Linked DNA regions of Homo sapiens: all the other regions are linked to region 1. The links come from fine-mapping of genetic effects on gene expression. A gene starts in region 1. Each other region holds a variant in brackets. All regions are shown on one strand. Distances are from middle to middle.

Region 1 (5,048 bases):
TGATGCAGCAACCAAGCAGTAGAACATGAACTCCAGAGTTAAATCTGGCTCCTCCACTTAACAGGTATGAGACCCTACGCATGTTACCTAATATTTCAGAGCCTGAGATTCCTCAGCTGTAAAATGAAGGTGATATTTCCCTTGTAAGATTTTTGTAAGGATTACACAAGATAATGCATGTATAATACTTTACATTAATAAATAATGCTATAAGGCCGGGCGCGGTGGCTCACAGCTGTAATCCCAGCACTTTGGGAGGCCGCGGTGGGTGGGTCACGAGATCAGGAGTTCGAGACCATCCTGGCCAAAATGGTGAAACCCCGTCTCTACTAAAAACACAAAAATTATCCAGGCGTGGTGGCACGTGCCTGTAATCCCAGCTACTTGGGAGGCTGAAGCAGGAGAATTGCTTGAACCCGGGAGACGGAGGTTGCAGTGAGCCAAGATCATGCCGCTGCACTTCAGCCTGGGCGACAGAGAAAGACTCTGTCTCAGAAAAAAATAATAATTTAAAAATAAAAAAAATGAATAATAAAAAAAAGATGCAATGTATTATTATTTATTGTAAGATCCATGAAGGCAAGAATGTATCTATCTTGTTCTCTGCTATGTCCGTAGTGACTAGCAAAAATGCCTGGCCCAGACAAGGTGTTACATAAATGTTTACTGAATTAAATGAGGAAAACATACATGGCGGGGGTGTGGAAAGTGGCAATATCTCCTTGAATATGCTCCAATACCATGGGTTACTTGTTAAATGGACACAGTGATTCCCTAGCCCTTGTTCCAGGTTCGGCTGTATACCCATGAAGGATCATTCTCATCTACACTGAAGGTCAAGGACCAGGCTGGGGAAGCCTTACCCAAGATATGGCATCCCATAGGGTGTTCGGGGAGACACGGGAAGACATCCATTGGAAGGCATCCTTCCATCCATGGGACCTTGGACCCCCGCTCGTGCCTGGGCCATGGGGACCTGACCTAGATGATGAAATAAGAGGCTATCAAGTAGGGGCAAAGGGAGACCAGGGACTGGGTGCGGTGGCTCACACCTGTAATCCCAACAATTTGGGAGGCTGAGGTGGGTGGATCACGAGGTCAGGAGTTCAAGACCAGCCTGGTCAAGATGGTGAAACCCCATCTCTACTAAAAATATAAAAATTGGCTGGGTACAGTGGCTCACACTGTAATCCCAGCACTTTGGGAGGCTGAGGCGGGCAGATCATGAGATCAGGAGATCAAGACCATCCTGGCTAACATGGTGAAACCCCGTCTCTACTAAAAATACAAAAAAAATTAGCCAGGCGTGATGGTGCATGCCTGAAATCCCAGCTACTTGGGAGGCTGAGGCAGCAGAATCGCTTGAACCCAGGAGGCGGAGGTTTCAGTGAGCCAAGATCGCGCCACTGCACTCCAGCCTGGGCGACAGAGCGAGACTCTGTCTCAAAAAAAATAAAATAAAATAAAAATTAGCAGGGTGTGGTGACGGGTGCCTGTAATCCCAGCTACTCGGGAGGCTGAGGCAGAGAACTGCTTGAACCTGGGAGGCGGAGGTTGCAGTGAGCTGAGATTGCCCCACTGCACTCCAGCCTGGGCGACAGAATGAGACTCCATCTCAAAAAACAACAAAAAAAAAAAAATAAAAAAAAAGGGTGACTAGGGGAGGAAATGAGTGGTAAAATGGCAGTATCTTACCTGTCGAGGTTAGGCACAGGAACCAGCAAAGTGGAGGAGGTAGTCTGAGGCCCATCTGGGCTGGTGGACTTAGGAGTCACCCTCCAGAGGCTAGGTCCCAGTGTACGGGGAAGAGCTGTACAGAACAACCAAAACTCAGGCACCTCAACAAGAACCCAGGAATCACTGTCATCTGCCTCAGCAGAGGTTCTTAAACATGGATACACATGGGAATCTTTTATCTACTACAGATTCTAGGGTAGTACCCCAGAACCAATAAACTAAGATTTCTCAGGGTAGAGCATCCACGTTTTTTAAAAGCGCCCATGTGATTCTGCTGGTCTCCTGTGGATGCCAACCACTGTTCTAAGATGACCAAACGTTCATACATATACTCTCACTAATGTTTGGGGCTCTTTGACTCTAAACCTCTCCTCTCTTCACTGGCTATGCCTACTCCATTGGCCCCTAATCCTCTTTCATTCATTCAGTCCACCATCTCCTGCCATTGGACTCCTCCCCCTCCCAACAGTCCTACCAACTTCTTGGACTCCACCCTCTTCTAGCTAGGCCCATCCACATCTCAAATTCCAGCAGCCCCTGACTTCCCCGCCCTCTTTCAAGCCCCGCCTTCCTTGGCTCTAACCCGGCCCACGATCGCTTCGGCTGTTTCCTCGGGCCCGCCCCCACTCCAGTTCGGTCTTTGCGGCCCAGAGTGACGCTGGTTGCTTGGACGTCCCTTACCTCGGCCCAGGAGTCCCGGGAGGCGCCACATGTCGCTGCCAGCACCACAGAGAGCTCGCAGCCGAAAGCGCGAGACCAACCCTTGGGACAGCGGCTAGAAAGGCCGCCGCGATGCCCCGAGTGGCCGAGTACCCGAGGAAGCTCTGAGCTGGCCAATTAGAAGGGAGCCCGGCCGGAAAGACGGCGCTGCAGAGAGGAAGTGCAGGGCGGAGGCGTATTCGGGGCCAGCGGGGCGGTGACGTGCGGCAAGGGCATGGGGATGTGGGCCCAGGCTTCCGTGGGGGATGTCCTTGGCGTTCCCAAGCCGAGGCAGGGGACCGCAGGTGGCGAAGCGAGCCACCCGGAAGCGGGACCTTCGGGAAGTGGGGCTGGAGCGGCTTCAGGGAAGTAAGAGGACCTTGCAGACCGTGAGGCCGCGAACCAGGAAAGGCTTCTCCAGGCCCTAGGCTTGAGGAAGTGGGAGTAACCAGGCTCCATGGGCGGAGGAGAGGACCCCCGGGGTCCCACAAATGAAGCCAGTAGGCCGGGCTTCCGTCCAAGGCCACCTGCCTGGAGATGCCAGGCCAGGGCCCGACTGCGTAGGCGATGAGAAACCGCACAGGGCAAGGCTTTGATTCTGGGTTCTAGCTCCGGTCCAGCTTTATCTCACTGTGCAGCTTCATGCCAACCCCTTACCTTGTCGGGGCCCCAATACGCGCCAGATAGGGTCAAATGGAATGACTGGCCTGACAAGCTGAGATTCTTGGGTAGCTCCTTTCAAAATACCTGAGACACCACCCGCGCCCTATTAGAACCCTCGTCTTCAGACGTGGCAAAAGTTATGTATGTGTTTGTTCTTTTGTGGAAAAGAATAGTTCCGTCTGGTCCCGGTGGCTCACGCCTGTAATCCCAGCACTCTGGGAGGCCGAGGCGGGCGGATCACCTGAGGTCAGGAGTTTGAGACCAGCCTGGCCAACATGGTGAAACCCTGTCTCTACTAAAAATACAAAAATCAGTTGCGCGTGGTGGTGGGCGCCTGTAATCCTAGCTACTCTGGAGGCTGAGGCAGGAGAATTGCTTGAACACGGGAGACGGGAGGTTGCAGTGAGCCGAGATCGCGCCTGGGCGACAGAGTGAGACTCCATCTCAAAAAAAAAAGGAAAAAAAAATAGTTCCTTTCACCACATTTGAATCCGTGAAATAACGGAGCTTACATTCAAGTATAAGATGTTTAGATTTCCTCCCTATCCCCTTCCTCCAGGTATGTGACTTTAAGGTGAGTGGAAGTTGCTACCTGGGGTAAAAGTGTACTGGGGGCACCTACTTTTAGACCGAGGCATGTGGCTTGAAAGTTGTATTAATATGTTAGACAACTTTTTTTTTTCTTTTGAGACGGATTCTCTGTCGCCCAGGCTGGAGTGCAATGGTGTGATCTCGGCTCACTGCAACCTCTGCCTCCCAGGTTCAAGCGATTCTCTTGCCTCAGCCTCCCAAGTAGCTGAGATTACAGGCGCCTGCTACCACATCCTGCTAATTTTTGTATTTTTAGTAGAGACAGGGTTTCACCATGTTGGCCAGGTTGGTCTCGAACTCCTGGACCTCAGGTGATCCTCCTGCCTTGGCCTTCCAAAGTGCTGGGATTACAGGCTTGAGCCACCGTGCCTGGCCGTTAAAGAACTTTTGAGCCATATATCAGCCCGTTCTAGGATCTGAGAAGACAGCTGAGGAAAGAGCATTTGTGGCCTCCAGGAACACGGTCCAGTGGATTAGTAGTGGGCTTTGGAGTCCCACAAATCTGGGTTGGAATCACAGCTTGCTTACTTCGTAGGTATGTTATCTTGTGCAGGTTCCTTAACCACACTAAGTCTCAAGAGCTTCATCCGTAAAATAGGGAAAATACCTCATGCAATTGTTGTGAGGTTTAAATAAAATAATATGTTAAAAATGTTTAACTTGGTGTTTTGGGAATACCCTTCAAAAAATAAAAAATAAATAAATAAAAATGTTTAGCATAGTTCCTGGCACATAGTAAAAGCCCAGTAAGTGTAAGTTGCTATTAATTATATTAGTAGGGGAGGTAAGCAGGCAAGTGTAATAGGTTAGGTTCCCATAGAAGCATGAACAATGGATTGTGGGATCCCTTGGAAGGCTTCAGAAAAGTAGTTGCATTTGAGCGGGGCCTTTAAATGTGAATAAGAGCTTGCCAGGTGGAGAAGGAAGAAAGGCATTGCAAGCGGAGGAAACAATAAATAAAGGCCCAGAAGTTTGAATGTTGGACAACTATTCAGAAATAGCCTTGCTTCGGGATTTGGGACGGCAACCTTTCACATTCCTTGTGTTGCTGTCCCGAAAATAAAGTAACAAACAAGTATGCTGGTTTGGCTGTGTTCTTCCTCCTGCGTCTTTTGTACCCTCCTTCCTTTCAGACTATCCATAGTTTGTGTCATTTCTCAAGGTTCAGCCCAATCCCAGCTCTTCAGTGTAGACTCCTCAACTGTTTGAGCCCTCCCTGCTCCCTACTTTTCCCAATTCCTATAGCACTTAATTTCTTACTACACAGTTTAGCAGTAATTATATGCTGTCTTGGTATTTATCTCATTTGTGTAACTCTAGCCTTCCCAGTTCTCTCCTTTCAGGACAGGAATAGCATT
Region 2 (5,048 bases), 25 kb after region 1:
AGTTCCCCCATTATCCATGCTCATTACTCTCTGTCATTTTCCTTCCTTGCACTGATTAAACCTGTAATTAAATGATTATTTATGTGATCACATTTATATGGTTTGTGGCCCCATTAGAAAGAGAACTCCAGTTGGTTAGGAGTTGCCTTTCTCTCTGTTCTTCACTATACACCAAGTGCTAGCACAATGCCTGGCACAGAATTGATGTTCAATAAAACTTAAATGGCTGGGCGTAGTGGCTCACGCCTGTAATCCCAGTACTTTGGGAGGCTGAGGCGGGTGGATCACCTGAGGTCAGGAGTTCAAGACCAGCCTGACAAACATGGAGAAACCCTGTCTCTACTAAAAATACAAAATTAGCCGGGCATGGTGGCACATGCCTGTAATCCCAGCTACTAGGGAGGCTGAGGCAGGAGAATCGCTTGAACCTGGGAGGCCTAGGTTGCGGTGAGCCGAGATCACACCATTGCACTCCAGCCTGGGCAACAAGAGCGAAACTCCATCTCAAAAAAAAAAAATTAATTAATTTAAAAAAAATGAAGTTGAATGCTTTGGGGAAAGGACATTAGAGAAGAAGGAAAACAGACAGAAAATGTCAGAACAGATAATTCCAAATCCTTCTGATCTTGGGCCTCTGACTATCACCAGTATGTTCCTTTCTCACCTGCCAGGGTGACACCATGTAACTCTCCTGGGGCATGTTAAGATGCCCAGCAGAGGCCGGGTGCAGTGGCTCAAGCCTGTAATCCCAGGACTTTGGAAGGCTGAGGCAGGTGGATCATTTGAGATCAGGAGTTCGAGACCAGCCTGGTCAACATGGCAAAACCGCCTCTACTAAAAATACAAAAATTAGCCAGGCATGGTGGCATGCACCTGTTGTCCCAGCTACTTGGGAGGCTGAGGCACAAGAATCGCTTGAACCCAGGAGGTGGAGGTTCCAGTGAGCCAACATCATGCCACTGCACTCCAGCCTGGGCAATACAATGAGATTCCATCTCAAAAAAAAAAAAACAAGATGCCCAGTAGAACTACACAGGGACAGCACTAGGATTGAAGCAGACAGAAACTTCTCAGCTGGAGGAAACAGGCCTGAGGGGCATCCTGGCCTGGTCTGGCTCTGCACTTATCCAGAATGTGACTAAGAGTTCATAGTTCTAGACCAAGCTTTGTGTGAGGAACCTTCTATTCCAGATGTTTTCTGGTAATTAAGATGGGAGATGTTTGTTGCCGAGAACATATGGTATTGATAATAATAACAAAAATACTATCAGCTACCATTTATAGAAAGCTTACTATATGCCAGGCACTGGGCTAAGTACTTTATATATAGTTACACATAATTAATTAATCCTCACAACCATCTTGAGAGAAAAATGTACCACTATTTCCATTTTGAGAATAAGTAATTTGCCCAACATCACACAACTGGGAAGCAACTGAGCCAGGACAGGACTCTGAGGCCAAGCTTTGAACCAGCAGGATAGGCTGCCTTCTATTTAAGCCCCGAGGAGATACCAGACCACCTCATACTCACTCAACAGATACAAAGTAGTGCCCTTTAATGGACTTGGGATTTATTTGCAATCTTAGAAGCTGCCACTATTCCCTTGTCTTAGAACCACCAGGATCTGGCTCCTGATTCCTGGAGTCACAGAAGAGAGGTGCCAAAACATCTGGAATTGCAGAAGGAAGCAAATACAGGCAGCTGGGAGGCACCTGATCCTTGGCCTTCTACAGCAAAATACTCCTGAGTCCCTGGCCCTCCTGCTTGGAAGATGGGACCACTTTGAATCTTTTCCCTCTGTATTTCTCTTCTCCCAGTGGTGATCCTGCGGGCTCATTTCTGAATGATGATGGTCTCGAGGCAGGTGACAAGTAAGCCACAAAGGGCCACATAAACCATAACCAGCCAGTGTGAGAGAGAAGCTGCCACTGAAGGTGGGCCCTATTTACTTGGGGCTGCACTCGCGGCCTTGTGTACAGCCACTTGCAGGAAGTGAGAGCTCCAAGCTTTTGACATCAGGTCATGGTGTCTTCTGTTCCCCTCTCTTCCCTGTGGCACTGACTTCAGCTTTGTCCCTTTAATGATTCTGAGTCTGACCTCCATGGCTTCAAATTAAGTCTGGAATCATTTTAAGACTACTATGGGGTGGATACGGTGGCTCATGCCTGTAATCCCAGTACTTTGGGAGGCCGAGGCTGGCAGATCACCTGAGG[T/C]TGGAAGTTCGAGACCAGGCTGACCAACATGGAGAAACCCCGTCTCTACTAAAAATACAAAATTGGCTGGTGTGGTGGCGCGTGCCTGTAATCCCAGCTACTCGGGAGGCAGAGGCAGGAGAATCACTTGAACCTGGGAGGCAGAGGTTGCAGTGAGCCGAAATCACGCCATTGCACTCCAGCCTGAGCAACGAGAGCAAAACTCCACCTCAAAAAGAAAAAAAAAAAATGGTCCCTGACTCGTGCCACTTAAACTCGGTCTGAAACAGATACTTCCTGGCTCATCCTTTCAACCTGCATTTATTGTGGTGTTATCTCTCTAATCTGTGGACTCCTAAAGGGCAGGTTTGTATTGAATATGGTCATTTGGCATGCATCCTCTATTCTTATTTTCTTCTAATGTGTTACAGGGACCGGGAAGCTAGAATACATTTCTATGACTCCCTTACAATTAGGCACACTTGTATGACTGTAAGACAGAAAGGAGGAAGATGACTTCTTTCTGCTATTTTGGGCTTTCTGTTGGCAAGCAGGATCCTGGAGACATGGGGTTCTCCTGCAACAGCCATTCAGCTTCCTGATCTCTGCTTTCTAGTTCCTGGATGGCAGATCTCTGACAATGTGTTCTTTAACTCAACAGTTACAGTGGTGGCCTTTTGATTCCCCATCTTACTAATCATGGCAAACATATTCGCTCTCCTGTTGCAGTTTTGGGAAGTCCATTCCACAACTCCTTTCAATGATTGTGTAAACACTAATTCTCTACACTAAGTTCTCCTCAGTTCAAAATACCTAGAGTAGTTTCTGTTTTCCTGCACTGAACTAGGCCCTCAAATAGTTGTGAAATGACTGACTCCTTGGAGAAACAAAGAAAAAAAAAGTCAGTGTTGTGTTGGAGAGAAAAGATTTATTTTCTCATCCACTTCTAGGTTCATGGCCAAGATTCCAATAATAAAAAACAGATTAAGAAGAGAAAAGTATGCAAATGTATTTAATATAAGGTTTACATGACACAGGAGCCTTCATAAGGAAATGAAGACCCCCCCAAAACAGGAAAACTTGTGTATTTATTTAGGCTTAGGTTTGAGGAAGAGTAGAAGTGGTCACTCATGCAGAAGTATGATAGGACAAAAGGGGTGTGATCTAATGGTAATAAACTGGTGGTAGGGGACTTAGCAAGTCCTGTTCAGATTCTTCTGCCTTCAAGAACAAGGAAGTCCCTTTTCTTCAGTATAGGGAGGGTATCTCTGGAATGAGGATTTCATGACCTACTTCAGGAAAGAAAGGAGGGAGAAGGTCAGAGAGTAACCTTCCCAGGTTTTTTTCTTTTCTTTTTTTTGAGATGGAGTTGCACTCTGTCGCCCAGGCTGGAGTGCAGTGGCGTGATCTCGGCTCACTGCAACCTCTGCCTCCTGGGTTCAAGTGATTCTCCTGCCTCAGCCTCCCAAGTAGCTGGGATTACGGGTGCCCACCACCATGCCCGGCTACTTTTTTTTTTTTTGTATTTTTAGTAGAGACGGGGTTTCACCATGTTGGCCAAGCTGGTCTTGAACTCCCGACCTCAGGTGATCCACCAGCTTCAGCCTCCCAAAGCGCTGGGATTACAGGCATGAGCCACTGCGCCCGGCCAACCTTCCCAGGTTTTATGGCCTGCTTCCGGGAAGAAGGGAGAGGGAAAGGTGAGAGTGGTTCTCCTCTGCTGTTTTTTCAAATGCCAAGTTGCCATATTTTGGAGTACGGTATCCTGAACCCCATCATTCTCCTGTCTGAAACTTTCCCAAGAGGCCTCACAGCCCAAAAACTGAGTTGGAAGATTATTGCATAACCCATTGAACCATCTCTCAGTTCCAGGAATAACTCAGTCCAGTTAAATAGTTAACAGTTGTATCTTATTCCAGTTGTTAGGGGGTATTGCAGTCAGGCTTCTACCAAAGTTAGGCCTCTATGTAGTGTAATCAATCAGGCATTTAATAAGAGGCATTTCCAGACAAACAATAGAAAAACAAACATTAACAATTAGAGCAATCCATAAACTCAGTTTTTGAGTCCGGAAGACAGCCAGTCAAAAAAATTTCTAGATTCGAGCTCAAAGCATCTTGAGATGGTAGAATGAGGACAAGTAGTGACAAGCTGATAGATTTTCCTGGTTTGCAGTTTGCATGAGGTGTTCTGGGGAACTTTCTGAGTAGCACATAGAGCAACACGTACAAAAATTGTTCATATATGGCTGTTGTGATTTCTCTAAAGTCTATATGAAGTTGTCCAGCTTTAGCTTGCAGGGCTTTGGAAAAAGGGCAGTTTTAATTTTTAGTGATTCTCAGTCATAAGGTGGGAGAAAAATTGGAAATTGTTTGGAGAGTGATAACCAGATATTGGAGGAAACTAGAAGAATTTAAGATCCAGTCCAGATTATAGGTAGATAACAAAACCTCAGGGCCGGGTGAGGTAGCTCACGCCTGTAATCCCAGCACTTTGGGAGGCCGAGGCGGCTGGATCACGAGGTCAGGAGATCAAGACCATCCTGGCTAACACGGTGAAACCCCGTCTCTACTAAAAAATACAAAAAATTAGCCAGGCATGGTGGCGGGCACCTGTAGTCCCAGCTACTCGGGAGGCTGAGGCAGAAGAATGGCGTAAACCCAGGAGGTGGAGCTTGCAGTGAGCTGAGATCGTGCCACTGCACTCCAGCCTGGGCGACAGAGCAAGACTCCGTCTCAAAAAACAACAACAGCAGCGAACATGGCGCTGTGAGTGGTGCGGAGCGTGCGGGCCCTGCTCTGCACCCTGCACGCCGTCCCGTCACCCGCCGCGCCCTGCCCGCCAAGGCCCTG
Region 3 (5,048 bases), 26 kb before region 1:
AAGGGAGGAATGGGGATGGACCCAGGAGGAGGAAGCAGTGTTTCTAGGAATAACAGTGCAAACTCCTTGCTTTTGCAGAGGATTTTTAACTTTTTCAAACCATTTAATCGTGACAACACTGAGAAGAAGGCGTGTGGGTATTTCTAGCCCCCTATTAGAGATGAGGAAACTGAGGTCTGAGGAGGTCTAAAAACCTGTCTAATGCTATACAATAAGCTACAAATGGCCTTGAACTAGAACTCCGCCTCCCAGGACTTGATCTGTTGCCTCTCCCTTCCAATGGCCTATAGGGTCTGGCCGTGATATCTCACCCATCCCCTACTCCATTCTCCAGTCTTTCTGAAACTCTACCTTCTCTTCCAGCCTTTCAGTGTGCAGTGCTTCTGCCTGAAAACCTCCCCACCCCTTGCCCAGACCTTCATTCTCTTTCCACTTGCCAAACTCCTATGGAGCCTTTGGGTCTCAGCAGAGGTGCCTGGCATGTGGTATGAACTCAGTAACATCTGTTGAAATGAATGAATTAACTTAATCCAGTACCACCCCCCTGCTTCCTCCCTGCTCCAAGTTGGGTTAGGGGCCCTCTGCTCCCACAGAGCCCCCATTCTTTCCCTATGCCCAGAGGCAACCCCTGTGGTAAACACTCTTCGCTGCCCTGATCTCCAGCCAGCCTCCCTGTGGGGCTGCCTGCAACCTTCACATCCTGACAGATGTGACCACGCTGAGGGCAGCAGCTGGGGCTCCTTCTCCTTCTTACTCCCATAGCAACCACCCTGCCTGGCACTTATTAAGTACTTGTTGAATGAATGAAAAGATGAATAAATGAATAATTCAATGACACCATTTTGCCTTCTCTACAACATAGTCTTACATCTGGTCAACAAAAATTGGCCGAATGTCCAAATACTGCTAAAGGGGAACATAACTCTTTAAGATAATCTTCATCAAAGTAACAACAAATTGATGGTCAGGAAATGCCTTTTTCACCCCATCTCTCAGAGTCCACCAGGTGCAGGACACTCGGAGGAATGAGTATGAGGGGACAGGCCCAGAGGGTCCTCTTGCTCTCCTTCAGACACTCAGGTCCTGGGGTGACATGACAGAGCAGGGGACCTGCCCGCCCAGGTCCCTGTCTCTGTCACTGGGCACCATCCCCCATCTGATCACACAAACATCTGAAGCCAGAGGAAAGACTATAAAAAGAAAGCACCGGCATTGAGGGAAACATCCGGCGAGGAAGTGTGCTGAGTCGGAATTGTGTGGAGTCAACAGATTTTTCCTGTCTTGTAGCAAATCTCCCAGCTGCTGTCCTTGCTGCATCAGGGCCAATTCCAGCCCAAACCAAACCACCGAGGAAATAAGTACTTGGCCAAGCCAGGAGGCAGCAGGTAAGCAGCACGTAGCCCCCACAGGCATCTCAAGGCCCCTACTGGCCGCCCCTCATCACTGCAGCCTCTGTGAGTGAGGAAGGGTGAGCACAAGTCAGACACCGGTCCCCTGGGAGGGTGCAGCAGACAGCATCCATCCTCCCACCCTGGGAGTTTTGGTCGTGAGGTGACTGTATTGATAGTATTTACAGGACCTAGAAGTCCTGTAGGACTAACTAGCTGTATTGATAAATACCATCAATACAGTAGTCACCAAGGAAATGACCTCATCCCTGAGACTGTATTTGTCCCAATTACAGAGGTGCTGTAAATTGCCTTTATATCTGTAACTGTCACCTCTCTTTCTCTTGACCCATAAACATAATATGAAGGCTCCCCACTAAAGACATGGCTGTGTGGGCGTGTCCCTTTGGGCAATCCTAGAATTGAAGACACCTTAAGAGAACATCAAATCCAACTTCTTGTTACGGATGGAGAAACTGAGGCTCTGAGTAGCTTGATTCAAACCAGCTATGTAAACTTGAGCAAGTGAGATAATCTCTCAGGACCTTGGTTTCCCCATCTGTAAAACAGAACCCATCCCATTTCCCTTGTGGTAATGGGGTGAGGATTTCATAATCAATTGTATTCTAAGCCCATAGCCCAGCAACTGACACATAGTAGGTGCACACACAATGCTAACTCCTTTCCCCTTGAAGCAATTTTGCTAAAGGTCATGTAACAAGTGAGTGGCAAAGCTGGGACCAGCTCTCAGAGTTCCTGACTCCTGCATCAGTGCTCTTGCCCTGACAACTTACAGCTTCTTTTTACAAGGATGGTGAGAGGTAGTGTACTGCAGGGGTGAGTCCACACACTCCAGGGTCACACTGGCCTGGATTTGAAGTCTTGCTTTATCTCTTAATCTATGGGGACCTTGGGCAACCTGCAAAATCTTCACAAGTCTTGGTTTTCTCATTTGTACAATGGGTTGATTAAAGAGAACCCCTTACAGGTGTGGAAGGTTTGAATAAGACGGTGCATGGACCTTGCATCGCATAAGGCCTGACTCAGACTCACTGCTCAAAAACATTAGTTGTCATTATCACCCACACACTTGCCACCTCCCTGCTCATTTCTTCACAGCAGCAGAAATGGCTACAGGGGAACAAAACCAAACAAACAGAAGGACTCCTACGCCTTAAAACCCCTCAGGTAGCCTTCCCACCTGCTGGGATGAGGGTCCAGGCCTGTCCCCAAGTGTCTATGGGAGAGAGGGACCAGGATGGAGACAGCAGGAGACTGGGGTGCAGGTAGCAGATTCTGAGCAGCTTTAGGCTGCCTCACTCCGGCTGCACCCTCCATAGGTCTGCTCTTCTGGCCTAGGATTTGGCCTAAAGTAGGGAGGAAGGAATGTTCAGTCACTCATTCAGCACCCACTGTGTGCCACGCCCTGTTCTGAGCATCAGTAAGGGAGCAGGCAATGAGACAGGCAAAAATCCCAGCCTTCTCCTACGGACGGA[T/C]GGACGGCTGCACTGGCTCCACTGAGGTTTACTAAACTCCTCCTGTGTGCCAGGCAATACCTAGACATGGGAGGGGCAACGAGAATGATATCAATGAACTCATCTTCACTTCTGTCTGCTGAGTGCTTACAATGTGCCAGGCTCTGTGGTAGGCCCCTCTACCTACAACGTCTCATTTTACCCTCACAACACCCTGTGAGGTGGGTGTTATTTATTACTCTCATTTTACAAATGAGGAAACAGAGTAAGAGGAGGGCGGGAATCACATGATCCAGGTTGGTCTGACTCTAGAGGCCAGGCTGTGTATCCAGTTCCCTATATGGGTAAATGAATGCAAACATGAATGGGCATGAATGAATGAATCTATATGGGAATGTCCCTACCCATGGACTGGTTGGTTTCTTTTGCAGGAGTGCAATCCCAGACACAGATGGCCCAAGTGCAAGGGCTGGAGGCCAGACAGACCCAGAACAGGAGGAAGGGCCTTTGGATCCTGAAGAGGACCTCTCTGTGAAGCAACTGCTAGAAGAAGAGCTGTCAAGTCTGCTGGACCCCAGCACAGGTAGGGACCCCCTGGAGTTACCTTGACCCTGCTTCTGCCCCATGGTGTCCAAGCTTCAGAGTTCTGCTCCAATCCACTGCAGGGAAAAGCCATTCTGTTTCTGTGGAGGAACATCAGCAACATTTAACTTCCCTTGCACCCTTGCAGCCTCAGAAAGTATTTTAAAGACCAGGTTCTACTTTGATTTTTTTTTTTTTTAGACAGGGTCTTGCTCTGTCACCCAGGCTGGAGTACAGTGGCATGATCACAGCATGATCACAGCTCACTGCAGCATTGACCTCCTGGGCTCAGGTGATCCTCCCACCTTAGCCTCCCAAGTAGCTGGGACTACAGGTGAGCACCACCACCACATCCCGCTAATTTTTGATTTTTTTTTTTTTTTGTAGGGACAGGGATTCACCTGTTGCCCAGGCTGGTCTCCAACTCCTGGGCTCAAGCAATCCACCCACCTCAGCCTCCCAAAGTGCTGGCATTAGAGGCATGAGCCACCTGTAATCAAAGCCAAAGTAGGCACCTGGCCTACGTTGATTATTCATTTTAAAAATCATTGTAAAAATAGTGAACATGCCAGGCACTGGGGAAGCATCTTATGTACATGATCTCATTTAAGCCTCCAACCAATCCCCTCAAGTAGATAATTATTACCTCGAATTTACAGATGAGCAAACCGAGGCTCAAAAAAATCAAGTAGCCTTCCCAGAGTCACCCAGCTCACCAGTGATTGAAGGGGAGCCAAACCCTGAGCCAGCCTGTCCTCTATGGACTTCTTACCACTCATTGGCGTTTGGTGTGTTTCAATACCCTTTCACCCTGGGAACCAGGTCAACTCTTTAATATGCTAACAATTGCAATGAAAACAAAAAGATTTTTTTGCAGAGAAATAATTAGCTTTGACAATAAATACATAATGTGAACTTGAATTCAAGAATCTGCTAGCGCCCCCCGCCCCTGCTGTGGACATTGGTCAGCCTCCTTTGGTAACACACCCCACGGCAGACCATCCCTGTGCTGTGGTTTTCTATCTATGTAGTTAACACTGTTTCTCATGTGCTCCATCTGGCTGCAGACACACTGAAGGTATGGCAGGGACTTCTCTTTCCTTGGTTAAAAAATATTGCTAATGTTTATTGGGCACTTTCTATGTGCTAGGCCCTGTTCTAAGTACCTCATGAGAAAATCTTATGAGATAGGGGCTATTCATTATCCCCATTTCATAAAGGAAAAATGTGAGGGTCAGGGGTGTTTCATAATTTGCCCAAGGTTGTGCAGCTCGTGGATGGTTATTAACACAGGCAGTGTGGCTGTAAATTTTAGAGCTGTGTTGTTCAATGAGGTAGTCACTAGCGACAAGTGGCTATTTAAATTTAAGTGAATTAAAATTAAATAAAATAAAATATTCAGTTCTGCCATACCAGCCACATTTCAAGTGCTCACTGGCTATGTATGGCTGGGGGATATAGCTTTGGATTCTATCTCTATTGGTCAGCTCTGGCTGGAACCTGTGGGGTCAGTTCCCACACGGTCCTGCTTGCCCACAGCACAAAGGGTACTGAACACAGGGGCACTGTAAGGAGTTGGGGGTAAGGAAAGAGGAGGGGCAGA
Region 4 (5,048 bases), 74 kb before region 1:
CCTCCATTTCTGGGAAAGACCTTTGAGAGCCTAGCCCAGGCCTAAGGGCTATGTTTGGTACCAGTGTTTTGTCTTTAGCTTTTCTATGTGATTGTGCCGTCATTCTGTTTTAAGCTCATGGATCAATGGATTTGTTTACAATGTGATATTTTCTATTAAATCCAGTATTTTCAAATAACATGTCATTTGTGGATTTGAGCCCCCAATTTTAGAAGACTCTCTGGGCTATTTATATATTTTAGAAAGAGCTGGTAAGCAAAGCCTCACATTCAGTCCTCACAAGAGCCTGCAGGAAGGCCACAAGCATAGCAACCATCATCAGAGTGAAAAATAAGATTTTATGAAAATGGAGCACTTACAGGAAAAAGGGTAGGAATGAACAGATGAGCAATAAATTGTCATGTTGGGGCTGTACCTGAGATCCAAACGAGGATACAGCTGTTATAAAGATTAAGGCAGATTTGTGATGAGGGATATTATTGCAAGGTATGCAAAAATACATATAGGTTTTTTTTTTTTTAAAGTTAATATAATGGAATATCTTAGGGCAATATAGCCAATTAAGGAGGTAGATATAGAAGTTAAAAGAAGGGTTTAATTTTTTTAACTATTTTGAGGCTGGGTGCAGTGGCTCATGCCTATAATCCCAGTGCTTTGGGAGGCCAAAGCAGGAGAATCACCTGAGATCAGCAGTTCAAAACCAGCCTGGGCAACATAACAAGACCCTGTCTCTACGAAATTTTTAAAAATTAGCCAAGCATGGTGGTGTATGCCTGTAGTCCCAGCCACTCAGAAGGCTGAGACAAGAGGATTGCTTGAGCCCAGGAGTTCAAGACTGCTGTGAACTATAATCGCATCACTGTACCCCAACTCTGGACAACAGAACAAGACCCCATCTCAAAAAAATATATTTTTTTGATATAAATCCAATGATTTTTATGTTTATAGAATACTGCACTTCCTTACCACAATCCTTTTTTTTTTTTTTTTTTAAAGAGAGAAAGTCTCACCCTGTCTTCCAGGCTGGAGTGCAGTGGCGCGATCTCAGCTCACTGCAACCTCTGCTTCCTGGGTTCAAGTGATTCTCCTGCCTCAGACTGCCCAGTAGCTGGGATTACAGGTGTGCACCACCACACCCACCTAATTTTTGTATTTTTAGTAGAGACAGGGTTTCACCACATTGGCCAGGCTGGTCTCGAATTCCTGGCCTTAAGTGATCTGCCTGCCTTGGCCTCCTAAAGTGCTGGGATTACAGGCATGAGCCACCGCGCCCAGCATCACAATCCATTTCTATCATTCCCAAAAGCTCCCTACTCCTAACCCCAGCCCCAGGCAACTACTGGTCTGCTTTGCGTCTACAGATTTACCTTTTCTGGTCATTTAATATAAATGGAATCATGTGACATGACATCTTTTGTGTCTGGCTTTTTTCACTAAGCATAACATTTTTCAGGTTCATACAACACGTAGCAGCAGTCCATTCCTTTTTATTGCTGTATAGTATTCCGTTTTGTGGACATATATTTTGTTTATCCAGTCAAGAAGGGTTTAAATTTTAAGTATGTTATAGTAACTACATTAAAATGAGACAAAAAAGGACTTAGTGATGACAGCTAAACTGGAGATACCTGTATGAACTTGAGACCTTAGAAAGATCTGATGTCCTTCCTGAGTCTGTGTTTTCCTGGTGGCTCAACAGCAGTGTACTGCTACAACCAGTGCTTATGCGATCAAGTGGGATGTACACCCCTGGGTCATCTTGGGCTTCTAATACCAGGGCTCCTTGTACAGGAGCTAATATGTTTGGGGGTAGGGATCAGAGTAGGCCTGGAATATCTTGTTACTGGAAATAAGGGTGCTTTCAAAAATGTCTGGGGCTGGCCAGGAGCAGTAGCTCACGCCTGTAATCCTAGCACTTTGGGAGGCTGAGGCGGGCGGATCACCTGAGGTCAGGAGTTCAAGACCAGCCTGGCCAACATGGTGAAACCCCATCCCTACTAAAAATACAAAAAATTAGCCAGGTGCAGTGGCGTGCACCTGTAATCCTAGCTACTGGGGAGGCTGAGGCAGGAGAATCGCTTGAACCCAGGAGGCAGAGGTTGCAGTGTGCCAAGATCATGCCACTACACTCCAGCCTGGGCTACAGAGCAAGACGTCGTCTCCAAAAAAAAAGTCTGGGGCTTGTCCCAGGAAGTCTGGGGATGAAAAAAAACAAAACAAAAATGTCTGAGGCAGTTCTGAGAGGACGAAACAGCCAGTTAAATGGGTTCCCACTGAACAGGTTTTCACAATTTGATCAAAAAGGAAATACTAAATACAGCTGACTGGAACAAGTTGAATTTGTAAAACAGCAAGTTTGATAAGAAAAGGAAAATGTAATATTAAGTGCACACAGAGCTGTATTTCAGGAAGAGTAGACAGAATGTGTTTACTTACATTTAGTAAAAAGTGGCAGTGTTGACATCAATGGGTGCCACCTTCCTTCTATTAGTCTGTTTATAAAGTAGAGGTGAACACAAGAGCCTGGCTATTACCCCTATGG[C/A]CTACTCTTCTACTCTTTCCGTCCTTCAGGCCTTGCCTCAAATGTCATTTATCAGATTAACTCTTCCCTGATCCTCCAATATAAAGCTGCAATCCCCAAGTTCCTATCCTTGCCGTGCGCTATTTTCTCAGAACCCTTTACCACTGGACGTGTATTTTGTTTCCCACTAAATGTAAACTCCATGAAGGTAGATGTTAAATACTGCTCTATTCTGCCCCTATAGCAGTGCCTTGATATCTAGAAGGCACTGGTACTTGTTGAACCATAAGCCTGATAGTTGTCCCCATGAGTAGTGATCGTACATAACAATCAGGGGAAATCATGGCATATTACATAATGGATTAGCCAACTGGCCTACTGAGGAGATCTAACTTGGAAAATTTGATGCTTCTTTCCTGGGAACCAAAATCCTTACTGTGATGAGATGCTAATGAAACACGTCCATTTCCGGTAAGATACAGTGTGACAGGATTTAGAGTTATGCAATAATGGGCAGGTAAAACAGAACATAGTACTTTGGACCTCAGGGGAGCCATTACCACCAGCTGGCAGTCATACTACATTAATAATCAGACTAGTCCATTTAGTATCCTCAAAGACTAAATCATAAGGTCCCAAACCTCTAACCCCTCTATCCCAGCTTTCCTTTCAGCTAATGACCTTGAAAACAGAAGCAATCAGAAAAGAATGTCCACGAGTTCCCATCATCACATACCCAGACGTCAGCCCTGCTCTCACACTTGCTGTCTTCCTGTTACCTGCTCCTTGGCCGAGCCCTCTGCTTGCACACCAGATCCCATCCTCTCTTGCCTCCTTGAGGACGTTGCTCTGGCAACACTCCCAACTCTCACCTACAGCATCAAATTGTCCTCTCCTGGACCACTCCTATGGCATTCAAGACAAGATTTAAAAACAAAACTGTACCTCATTTGCCCCCTAAGTACATCCTCATTTTTCTGATCTCCTTTAGAGTAAAGTTTCTAGTTACCCATACTCTGACTTTAATCTCTCACTCTTCTATTCTCTCTTCTCCTTCTGGTATGGTAGTCGCCCCTTCATCCACAGGGCATATGTTCTAAGACCCCCAGTGAATGCCTGAAACCGTGGATAGTACTGAACCTGATAGTTTTTTTTGATACACATATACCTATGATAAAGCTTAATCTATAAACTAGGCGCAGTAAGAAATTTACAAAAATAGAATAATTATAATACACTGTAATAAGTTATGTGAGCATTGTCTCTCTCCCTCTCAAAATCTTATTGTACTGCACTTACCTATTTTTGGACTACAGTTGACCATAGAAAGTGAAACTGTGGATAAGGGGGAACTACCGTATTCCCATTACGCGTAGCTACACTTTGCCTTTTTTTTGGAAACAAGTTCTCTGTTGCCCAGGCTGGAGTGCAGTGGCATGATCTCAGCTCACTGCAATCTCCACCTCCCGGGCTCAAGCGATCCTCCCACCTTAGCCTCCTGAGTAGCTGGGATTACAGGTGTGCACCACCACGCTTGGCTAATTTTTGTATTTTTTTTTTTTTTTTTTTTTTTTTTGTAGACACTGGGTTTTGTCATGTTGCCCAGGCTGGACTCAAACTCCTGGCCTCAAGCAATCGCCTACCTCAGCCTCCCAAAGTGCTGGGATTACAAGTGTAAGACACTACATCCAACCTACACTTTTAAAAATTATCCCACAGTTCTTGGATATTCTGCTGTTTTTAAAAATTTTCCATTCCTTTTTGAAATCTTTCAATTTCAATTTGGGAAGTTTCTATTGACATATCTTCAAGTTCACTGATTCTTTCTGGCTGTGTTCAGTCTTATGAGCCCATCAAAGTCATTCATGTCTGTTTCAGTGTTTTATTTCTAGCTTTTTTTTTTTTTTTTTTGAGACAGAGTTTCGCTCTTGTTGCCCAGGCTGGAGTGCAATGACACGATCTTGTCTCACTGCAACCTCCGCCTCCCGGATTCAAGCTATTCTCCTGCCTCAGCCTCTCGAGTAGCTGGGATTACAGGCATGCACCACCACGCCAGGCTAATTTTGTATTTTTAGTAGAGATGGGGTTTCTCCATGTTGGTCAGGCTGGTCTTGAACTCCCGACCTCAGGTGATCCTCCCGCCTCAGCTTCCTAAAGTGTTGGGATTACAGGCGTGAGCCACTGCACCTGGTCTTTTTTTTTTTTTTTTTTTGCATTTCTTTTTGATTCTAAGTTTCCATCTGTTGCTTATACTACGTGACTATTCTTGCATGTTGTTCATTTTTTCTATTAGAAATCTGGCACATTAATCAGTTATTTTAAATTCCCAGTCTGATAACTCTCAAATTTCTGACATATCTGAGTCTGGCTCTGATGCTCGCTTTGTCTCTTCTTTTTTCCCTTTTAGCATGCTTTGTACTTTTTTACTGAAGCCAGACATGATATATTAGGTAACAAGAACTTACGTAAACAGACCTTTAATGTGAGTTGTATGTTTATCTGGCTAACAGGCTGCATCTGATGTTCG
Region 5 (4,950 bases), 47 kb after region 1:
CCCCATCCTCACTCTAGAGCCCCCGGGTCCCATTAGCCTCCTCCTCCCACGGTCCCCTCCATAGCCCCACCCCCACGGCTTGCTGCGGCCACCGAGGCTGACCGCTCTGCGGCTTCGGCCGGAGGGGGAGGGGTGGACTTTCCCCGAGCGCAGCGGGAAGGGAGGGCCACACAGGGCGATCGGGGATCTGGGCGGGAAGAGGGTGGATATGGAGGAGCAGGTGCCCAGGGAAGAAGGCGCTGTGGGAGACACTTCCCTTGCCTCGACTTCCCAGGGGGCAGACAGAGCTGGGGACAGGTGTTTGAGTAGGGTAAGGAGGGGAATCCAGGAGCGGTCCTAGATGGAGGCTTGGGTGGGATAAGTGTAAGGTGAAGCTCAGAGGAGGGCACGGCCTGTGTACTGGGCCTCGGGCAGTGAAGAGATGGCAGAGGGAGGGGTCCAGGCTTTGGGGAGCGGTGCTCGGGGTCCCCTCCCAGCCGGACCGGAGCGGTCCCGAGCTCCACCTCCCGGCCGGAGGGGGGGCGGGGAGGCGGGCGGGCCGGGAGGGAGGGGGGAGGGAGGGGGCGGGCCGGGCTGTGCGCTCCGCTCTCTGCTGGCTCCGCCGCCGCCGCCGCCGCCGCCGCCGCCGCCGCCGCCGCCTCACACACTCGGGGAGCGGGAGCGCGGCGCGGACGCAAAGCCGCCGGGCTGCTGCGCCCAGAGCCAGCCGGAGCCGGAGCCGGAGCCCGAACTGCAGCTCCAGCCCCAGCCGTGCGGAGCCGCAGCCCAGGCCGGGGCCGGCGGCGGCTCATGGACAGCGGGGCGGGCGGCCGGCGCTGCCCGGAGGCGGGTAAGGATCCGGCGGCGGTGGAGGCAGCAGCGGCTTGGGGCCCGAAGCGGTCATGGCCGGCGGGAGCTGAGGGAGGGGCGCTCGGCGGAGCGAGGCCGCGGGGGCCCAACACGAGCTCGGCGCGAGGGGGCTGAGGTGGGGGCTGCTGGGAGCCCATAGCAGGGGATGCGGCTGAGGGATTCCGTCCTCCCAGGTCCGCGGCGAGAAGCCGAGGGAGGGGAGGGGGTGCTGAGCAGAACCCTAGTCCCCGCGTCCCAAACCTGGGCGCGCTCGGAGAGACGGGGATAAGGAGACTCCAGGAGCGCGCGGCGTGGAGGATGGGTTTGGGGAAGCGCGCGGCCCCCAGTTTGGTGGGGGTCTCCCGGAGGACGGAGCAAGCAAGGACCGTTGTCCACAACACATACATACACACTTGTTGGGCAACTACCTCGGCTCACTCAGCCGCTTCCAGCTTCTCGCGGGCACCCAGAGGGCCAGACCGTGGACATATATACACACATACATACATCCCTGCATATGTGCACACAGACATACCTCCCGCACACCAGCGCCCACTGGGGCACCGTCGCCAGCTCAGAATCCGCTTCAGTGTCTGCACGATCAGCAGCACCGACACACAACCCGTGGCTTTACAGAGCAATAACACAACCGGGTGTGACACCCCGCGACGTGGACACACAAACACAATCTCGTGCCCTCATGTACGAGTGTCACAGCCA[C/T]AGTTCACTAGATGAACCCTCAAAACCTAGCCACCCCCCACATTCCTTTAAGGAACACACCCTAGCATATATCATCTTACCCACTTCTTGGCCAGAACATAGGTACACAGCACAGGTCTCCTTGCACCCCTCTACTGCACCCACACAAACACACAACCCAGTATCTCAGCACACGCTTGATGGCACACACTCTAACACAGGAATTGGCACCTACAGCAGCGCCTCACGGTCACAAACACAGAATCCACTGCTTCACCCATCTTAACACTGGGTGTCACACACACCTTAAACCAACAGTGTCACATTACATTACACCCTGCAGCGCATACACACAAACACACACACTCCGTTCCTCTCTCTCGGAGTCCAGATTCAGGCAGGAGAAGCCGCCGGGGTCGTTCGGCGAGCCCCAAGCGCCCCGCCACGTTAATCGCGACATTATTATTGTAAATATCGGCACAGCGGGAAGGCTGGGCCGGCCTGCCGGCTTCCCAGTCGGCGCCTCCCCAACCCCCACTCCCGGGCCGAACCGGCTGGTGTTCCGGGAACAAGCTGGACCTGGCTGGCCAAGCCATCCCGCCTCCCCGGAGCTCTGGGGCCCCAGGTTCCTTTGTAGAGGGTGCTAGCCTGGGACGGTGATTGCGACCCTCTTCCAGCCATTTAGCTGAGTTTTCTGAGCCACCTGGGTCTCCAGCACACCTGGGTCCCACACACCTTGGTGGGTCCCGCACACCTGGGTTCGTCTCACACCTGAGCGCCCCCTCCGCCTGGTCCCCGCTGTAGGCCAGTGTGTGCGCGGGCAGGCCCTGGAGCCAGAACGGAGATCGCGGCAGGCATAGGAGCAGAATTTGTAGGCGAGGTGGTCTCGCACCCCTTCCCCCCAGCTACCCTCTGTAAGTCAGAATTCTGGCCTCAGTTTCCCCAACAGTGGTCGGCTACTATTTCTTCTGCCAGGAAAGACTGGGGGCGGCACTGAGGCCTTGGAGGATTGAGCGTAGGGCAAAAAACCCCCTCTGCTCGCCACGAGAGGGTCGGTTTTATGAGAATGTCCCCGCCTAGCCGGGTTCGCGGCTTTGTGATTCCGGCGCCGGCTCCCTCCCCGCCCCCTCCTGGCGCCCGCTGCGCCGCTCGCGCCGGCTCCGGCTTGCGGGGGACCCTAGGCCGAGGCCGGAGATGCCGGGGAGGAGGGATTCCCCGCGGTGGCCTGGGTGCGGGGGGCGCAAGGGCTCCCCCCACTAGCCGAAGCGCGTTCTCACCACGCCGCGCCCTAGCCTTGCCTTGGGTTCCTGGAGGCTGGGCGCTGCCGGGGTGGGGGTGGGGCCGCCAGAGCCCAAGAAACTGCCGCCGTCCCCCCCGCCACCCCCTAATCTCCGCAACACACACACACACTCGGCGTCCTCTGGGAGGAGTCGCTCCGCGCGCTGGGTGTGTGCTGGGAGCGCCCGCTGACCAAGGCGGTGCGGACTGGGGCTGCTTGGGTCGCTTCGTGCAGGAAGACGCCGCGAGGCTTCTAGCACCTGCTCTGGGTCAACCCTCGGGAGCTGCCAGGGAAGGGGCCGCCCAGAAAGTTTTTATGACAAGCCGGAGGTCTAGCTGTGTTTGTAGGGGGTGGGGGGCGCGGGAGTAGGTGGGTGTTACTTTATTGACGTTAAGGTCTGGGGGAATTGGAACCTGTAATTACAACTAGACTAGGGCATGGGGTGGAATCGAGGGGAGAGGCAGACTGGCCCCCAGAGGTAGCCAGAGGCAGTGTGATAGGGAGGCAAGTCTGGATTCAGTTCTGGCCGCATTTAGTTTTTACCCCTTCTCCTACCCACCTCCAATTCCCAATTCCAAAAGGGACTTCAGCTGGAAGTGGGTGTCTTGCTGGTCTGCCATCTTCTTAGCAGAGGGGCTGCTGCTGTGGCTACTTCTGCAGGGGAGCTGGGCAAGCGATAGTAAGCTAATTGCTGAGAAGGGGGTTGAAGGGCCAGGAGGGGGCCGCGAGGGTGGGGGAGGAGCTAAGTGGGAATCAGGGTTCGGGGAGGGGTGTAGGGAAAGAAGAAGGTGAGGGCTGCCCCTGCCGTGAGCAAGGATAGTTGGTGCAGAGATTCTGTTCAACAATGTATTGAGCACCTTTTATCTGCCAGGGTCCATGGTGGGTGGTGAGGATGCAGTAGTAAGAGACATACCATCATTGCCTTCATAGGACTTACCAACCAGCGAGGGGATTGGCTTGTTTATTCATCGAACCAAGGAGCACCCACTGTGTGCCCGATGCTGGAAATAAAATGGTCTATTCAGCAATTAGAAGACTTAGAAAAAAAAATGATTTGTCCTTTACATGTAATGTAAATAGACCTTAATGTAATAGACCTTATAGGCATGAGATCTCATTTAATTCTCCCAAATAATTTCAAGAGGCAGGTTTCATTATTTCCATTTCACAGTATGGAAACAGGTTCAGAAAAGTAAATTCACTTGGTTAATGTCACACAGCTAGGAAGTGGTGGAGCGAGGGTTCTAACCCCAACGATCTGACATGCAGGTGCCCAGAAGCCCTGCAGAGGCTAATAGAGGGTTGTGGGAGAGAGGGGAGAGGAGCTGAGGTCTGCACACTTGCTCTCTGTGGGAGGCTTCTGTTCAGCTCCACCCCACGCAACCCCATTTTCTTCCCCTCTCCCCGCGACAGTCCGTTTGTCCCTTGGTGTTTTGTGCCCGCGGCAGTGACCGTTGTGTAACAGTGCTGGGGTGAGGGTGGGGAGTCAGAGCTGACCTGGCTACTGGGACAGTGGTGGCTGCCTCTGTGTGTTTTTTCTCTGGCCACAGCACTCAGCAAAATGGACCTTGGTCCCCGGGGTGGGCTGGAAGTGAAGTTTCCGGGTGAACTCTCACCTCTGTTCTCATCCCTTCCCAGATGTTGACACAGACAGTATTTCCTTCAGCTTTTCTGGGACTCCGTCCCCTCCTTATCCCTTACTCCTACACCCCTGACGGCACTTCTGCTCCTCTATCTGAGGGACATGGGTCCCTGCGCCTGTTCCCCCTCAGGCTCTGGCTTCTCAGGGTCCTGGGTGCCCATGTCACTGGGGGGAGGTAGGGCACCGTTGCCCAGGAAGGCAGCCAGGGCCCGGGGAAGGGCAGATAAGGCGCTGCATGTATCAAAGGCTGCTGTGTGGGATTAATGACTCCCAGTGCCCAACTGCTGGGGACAAAGTTCAGAGATGGTGGGAACACGGGTGAGGGAAGGCCTCCTTATTGCTGCTCCTGCCCTTCCAGGCCACCCTGGCTCTCTTCCTGCATTTCTACGGGCCCCTGGGTGAACAGCAGCAGCCTAGGAAGCCTGGGCTGGTTCATTCCTTGACCCTTAGGCCCACTGTTTCTTATTCCCTCCTTACGGGGCAAGGTTGGCAGTCCAGGAAT
Region 6 (5,048 bases), 33 kb before region 1:
AGACCATGGGCACCCTCATAAGTCAGTGTGGGCAGGGACTGCCCCAGGGCCAATCCAAGATCCAGAGGTAGCCATAGGGTGTGACAAGTTGTGCAGATTACAACACTCACCCCTTGCAATAACGTCACTGCCTGTGACTCGGGGCCAGGCCCAGGCCAAAGCCCTTCCTACATCATTTCGTTTAATCCTCACAGTTTCCTGCTGAAAGGGCTACTATTCTTACTCCCATCCCCACTCTACAGATGAGGTAATGGAGGCCCAGGAAAGTTAAGTGACTTGTCCCAGATGACACCGCTGGTAAGTTGCAAAGTCAGAATTTGAACTCAGGCAGTTTACCTCTGATGGCTGCTCTGTTAATCACAGCTGCTTTCCAGTGAGACAAAAACGGGTGATCAGGGCAGAGTCAAGACAGAGAGGTAAACAAGATTGGGAAAAAGACAGGAATGAGAGGGGAACAATGGGGGAAAAGATAGGAACAAAGAGAGTTGGGGAAGGGGAGAGAAACAGGAAACATGACTTGCCCGGGAGGGGCATCAGTCCACGTGCAAGCAGGTGGAGGCTCAAGTTTTCTGCTCACTTGGTGATGCAGAGGCTCCCTTTCCCTCAGCAGCCGCCTTGCTGCGTGGACAGCAGCTTCCCATCTGGCCTGTCCCCGGAGCCCCGGCCTCATCCTCCTCAGCGGCAGGCCACTTAGCTTCACAGGAAATGCTCTTTCTCTAATTGGCATTGAAACTCACAGCCCTCCCTTTTCCTGTAGGTGGGGTTTCCATAGGAAAAAGCTGCTTCTCTGTTTCCCCAGCCTAGCAACTGTTTGGCAGTCAGAGTCCCACATCCTGCTCAACTGGGTCAGGTCCCTCTTAGACCAGCTCTTGTCCATCATTTGCTGAAGTGGACCAACTAGTTCCCCAGTAGGGGGTCTCCCCTGGCAATTCTTGATCGGCGTTTGGACATCTCAGATCGCTTCCAATGAAGATGGCCTTGCCTTGGGGTCCTGCTTGTTTCATAATCATCTAACTATGGGACAAGGTTGTGCCGGCAGCTCTGGGGGAAGGAGCACGGGGCTGATCAAGCCATCCAGGAAACACTGGAGGACTTGTCCAGCCTTGAAAGAACTCTAGTGGTTTCTGAATCTAGCCCACTTGGCGGTAAGCATGATGCAACTTCTGCAACTTCTGCTGGGGCTTTTGGGGCCAGGTGGCTACTTATTTCTTTTAGGGGATTGTCAGGAGGTGACCACTCTCACGGTGAAATACCAAGTGTCAGAGGAAGTGCCATCTGGTACAGTGATCGGGAAGCTGTCCCAGGAACTGGGCCGGGAGGAGAGGCGGAGGCAAGCTGGGGCTGCCTTCCAGGTGTTGCAGCTGCCTCAGGCGCTCCCCATTCAGGTGGACTCTGAGGAAGGCTTGCTCAGCACAGGCAGGCGGCTGGATCGAGAGCAGCTGTGCCGACAGTGGGATCCCTGCCTGGTTTCCTTTGATGTGCTTGCCACAGGGGATTTGGCTCTGATCCATGTGGAGATCCAAGTGCTGGACATCAATGACCACCAGCCACGGTTTCCCAAAGGCGAGCAGGAGCTGGAAATCTCTGAGAGCGCCTCTCTGCGAACCCGGATCCCCCTGGACAGAGCTCTTGACCCAGACACAGGCCCTAACACCCTGCACACCTACACTCTGTCTCCCAGTGAGCACTTTGCCTTGGATGTCATTGTGGGCCCTGATGAGACCAAACATGCAGAACTCATAGTGGTGAAGGAGCTGGACAGGGAAATCCATTCATTTTTTGATCTGGTGTTAACTGCCTATGACAATGGGAACCCCCCCAAGTCAGGTACCAGCTTGGTCAAGGTCAACGTCTTGGACTCCAATGACAATAGCCCTGCGTTTGCTGAGAGTTCACTGGCACTGGAAATCCAAGAAGATGCTGCACCTGGTACGCTTCTCATAAAACTGACCGCCACAGACCCTGACCAAGGCCCCAATGGGGAGGTGGAGTTCTTCCTCAGTAAGCACATGCCTCCAGAGGTGCTGGACACCTTCAGTATTGATGCCAAGACAGGCCAGGTCATTCTGCGTCGACCTCTAGACTATGAAAAGAACCCTGCCTACGAGGTGGATGTTCAGGCAAGGGACCTGGGTCCCAATCCTATCCCAGCCCATTGCAAAGTTCTCATCAAGGTTCTGGATGTCAATGACAACATCCCAAGCATCCACGTCACATGGGCCTCCCAGCCATCACTGGTGTCAGAAGCTCTTCCCAAGGACAGTTTTATTGCTCTTGTCATGGCAGATGACTTGGATTCAGGACACAATGGTTTGGTCCACTGCTGGCTGAGCCAAGAGCTGGGCCACTTCAGGCTGAAAAGAACTAATGGCAACACATACATGTTGCTAACCAATGCCACACTGGACAGAGAGCAGTGGCCCAAATATACCCTCACTCTGTTAGCCCAAGACCAAGGACTCCAGCCCTTATCAGCCAAGAAACAGCTCAGCATTCAGATCAGTGACATCAACGACAATGCACCTGTGTTTGAGAAAAGCAGGTATGAAGTCTCCACGCGGGAAAACAACTTACCCTCTCTTCACCTCATTACCATCAAGGCTCATGATGCAGACTTGGGCATTAATGGAAAAGTCTCATACCGCATCCAGGACTCCCCAGTTGCTCACTTAGTAGCTATTGACTCCAACACAGGAGAGGTCACTGCTCAGAGGTCACTGAACTATGAAGAGATGGCCGGCTTTGAGTTCCAGGTGATCGCAGAGGACAGCGGGCAACCCATGCTTGCATCCAGTGTCTCTGTGTGGGTCAGCCTCTTGGATGCCAATGATAATGCCCCAGAGGTGGTCCAGCCTGTGCTCAGCGATGGAAAAGCCAGCCTCTCCGTGCTTGTGAATGCCTCCACAGGCCACCTGCTGGTGCCCATCGAGACTCCCAATGGCTTGGGCCCAGCGGGCACTGACACACCTCCACTGGCCACTCACAGCTCCCGGCCATTCCTTTTGACAACCATTGTGGCAAGAGATGCAGACTCGGGGGCAAATGGAGAGCCCCTCTACAGCATCCGCA[G/A]TGGAAATGAAGCCCACCTCTTCATCCTCAACCCTCATACGGGGCAGCTGTTCGTCAATGTCACCAATGCCAGCAGCCTCATTGGGAGTGAGTGGGAGCTGGAGATAGTAGTAGAGGACCAGGGAAGCCCCCCCTTACAGACCCGAGCCCTGTTGAGGGTCATGTTTGTCACCAGTGTGGACCACCTGAGGGACTCAGCCCGCAAGCCTGGGGCCTTGAGCATGTCGATGCTGACGGTGATCTGCCTGGCTGTACTGTTGGGCATCTTCGGGTTGATCCTGGCTTTGTTCATGTCCATCTGCCGGACAGAAAAGAAGGACAACAGGGCCTACAACTGTCGGGAGGCCGAGTCCACCTACCGCCAGCAGCCCAAGAGGCCCCAGAAACACATTCAGAAGGCAGACATCCACCTCGTGCCTGTGCTCAGGGGTCAGGCAGGTGAGCCTTGTGAAGTCGGGCAGTCCCACAAAGATGTGGACAAGGAGGCGATGATGGAAGCAGGCTGGGACCCCTGCCTGCAGGCCCCCTTCCACCTCACCCCGACCCTGTACAGGACGCTGCGTAATCAAGGCAACCAGGGAGCACCGGCGGAGAGCCGAGAGGTGCTGCAAGACACGGTCAACCTCCTTTTCAACCATCCCAGGCAGAGGAATGCCTCCCGGGAGAACCTGAACCTTCCCGAGCCCCAGCCTGCCACAGGCCAGCCACGTTCCAGGCCTCTGAAGGTTGCAGGCAGCCCCACAGGGAGGCTGGCTGGAGACCAGGGCAGTGAGGAAGCCCCACAGAGGCCACCAGCCTCCTCTGCAACCCTGAGACGGCAGCGACATCTCAATGGCAAAGTGTCCCCTGAGAAAGAATCAGGGCCCCGTCAGATCCTGCGGAGCCTGGTCCGGCTGTCTGTGGCTGCCTTCGCCGAGCGGAACCCCGTGGAGGAGCTCACTGTGGATTCTCCTCCTGTTCAGGTACCTGGGGCATGGGCAGCTCTTTCTCTGGTCACTCCTGGACCACCAGAAACAGAATCAGACACCCCCATAACCTGCACAGTCCTCATGTTTCTTCCTTAGGCTCACCTGGCACTTTCTGATGCTTTGGGTAGCAATGGTTCAGGGCACAGCTTTGTGATCGGCTGAACTTAGCTGTGTGATCCTAGGCAAATTCCTTACTGTCTCTGGGCCTTAGTTGTCTTATCTGTAAATTAGAGATGATAGTAAGAGTATCTACCTTGTAGAGTTGTCCAGAGGATTTGATCAATTAATTCCTATAAGGCATTTATGGTGCCTCACAAGTAGACACACAGCAAAGGTAGTGATTAAGAGTATAAGCTTTGGGCAAGGTTACCTGGGTTCAAATCCTGGCTCCACTTCTTCCTAGCTCTGAACCACAGAGGAAGTTAACATCTCTGTTGAAGATGTCTATGTTAACACCACCCATCTTCTAAGTTTGCTTGAAAATAAAATGAGTGAATGCTCTTAATGCCTGTAGAACAGTGTCCATCTGACATGTAGTCAGTACTCAGCAAATTATTACTATTACTTCCTCAAAGCACTTCTCCATCTCCACTATTTGCCTGCCTTCATCTCATCTGGGCAACTTCCCTATGAAGAAGGCCAGCATAGGCATCATTGCACCCAAACCCAGGTGTTGCAAATAATTTGTCTGAGACCCCAGAGCTTTCCGGCTGGGCCTGCGGATGGGGCAGTGGAAATTACCTTAGAACTTAGCAGTTAGGCAGATTGGAGTTCAGATTTCAACACAGCCACTTAGGAGCTGGGCAACCTTGTACACGTCCTTCAACATCTGAGCCTCATTTTCCTCATCTATAAAATGGGGATTATGAGACCAAACTTACCCTGTGTCTGCCTCCTTAGAGTGTGAGGGCTAAATGGGATGATGAGTGTCAAAATGTCTAAGGACCTGGGATTTTCTAGACACAAGTGGGGAAACCTTTCCAGGGATGATGCCTGATCTCACACCCATAT

The links. PIP is the estimated chance that this variant, and not a neighbour inherited with it, causes the effect.
Region 2: its variant is fine-mapped to the expression of DELE1 in whole blood (TOPMed, PIP above 0.99).
Region 3: its variant is fine-mapped to the expression of DELE1 in whole blood (TOPMed, PIP above 0.99).
Region 4: its variant is fine-mapped to the expression of DELE1 in whole blood (TOPMed, PIP above 0.99).
Region 5: its variant is fine-mapped to the expression of DELE1 in whole blood (INTERVAL, PIP above 0.99). The same link has a PIP of 0.9 or more in lung.
Region 6: its variant is fine-mapped to the expression of DELE1 in whole blood (TOPMed, PIP above 0.99).

Annotation. Positions count from the first base shown.
Region 1 is chr5:141,921,343-141,926,390 of GRCh38, reverse strand. It overlaps DELE1 (DAP3 binding cell death enhancer 1), which reads right to left and starts at 2,520. Exons shown (of 12, transcript NM_014773.5): 1 at 2,419-2,520; 2 at 1,696-1,810; 3 at 864-981. The coding sequence starts at 2,449. RefSeq lists an enhancer at 2,126-2,639.
Region 2 is chr5:141,896,598-141,901,645 of GRCh38, reverse strand. It overlaps the pseudogene LOC729080. Among named protein-coding and RNA genes, the nearest start is that of PCDH1, 21 kb to the right of the region's middle. The variant T/C (reference allele first, on the strand shown) is at 2,218.
Region 3 is chr5:141,947,830-141,952,877 of GRCh38, reverse strand. It overlaps PCDH12 (protocadherin 12), which reads left to right. Exons shown (of 4, transcript NM_016580.4): 2 at 1,288-1,385; 3 at 3,295-3,446. It also overlaps a transcript of RNF14 not described here. Among named protein-coding and RNA genes, the nearest start is that of PCDH12, 7.8 kb to the left of the region's middle. The variant T/C (reference allele first, on the strand shown) is at 2,885.
Region 4 is chr5:141,995,801-142,000,848 of GRCh38, reverse strand. It overlaps GNPDA1 (glucosamine-6-phosphate deaminase 1), which reads left to right. Exons shown (of 7, transcript NM_005471.5): 7 at 1-178. Among named protein-coding and RNA genes, the nearest start is that of GNPDA1, 15 kb to the left of the region's middle. The variant C/A (reference allele first, on the strand shown) is at 2,543.
Region 5 is chr5:141,874,102-141,879,051 of GRCh38, reverse strand. PCDH1 (protocadherin 1) reads left to right here and starts at 642. Exons shown (of 5, transcript NM_032420.5): 1 at 642-829. The coding sequence starts at 790. RefSeq lists enhancers at 644-1,393, 1,660-2,344. The variant C/T (reference allele first, on the strand shown) is at 1,549.
Region 6 is chr5:141,953,955-141,959,002 of GRCh38, reverse strand. It overlaps PCDH12 (protocadherin 12), which reads left to right and starts at 801. Exons shown (of 4, transcript NM_016580.4): 1 at 801-4,031. The coding sequence starts at 1,152. It also overlaps a transcript of RNF14 not described here. RefSeq lists enhancers at 129-1,034, 1,035-1,941. The variant G/A (reference allele first, on the strand shown) is at 3,070.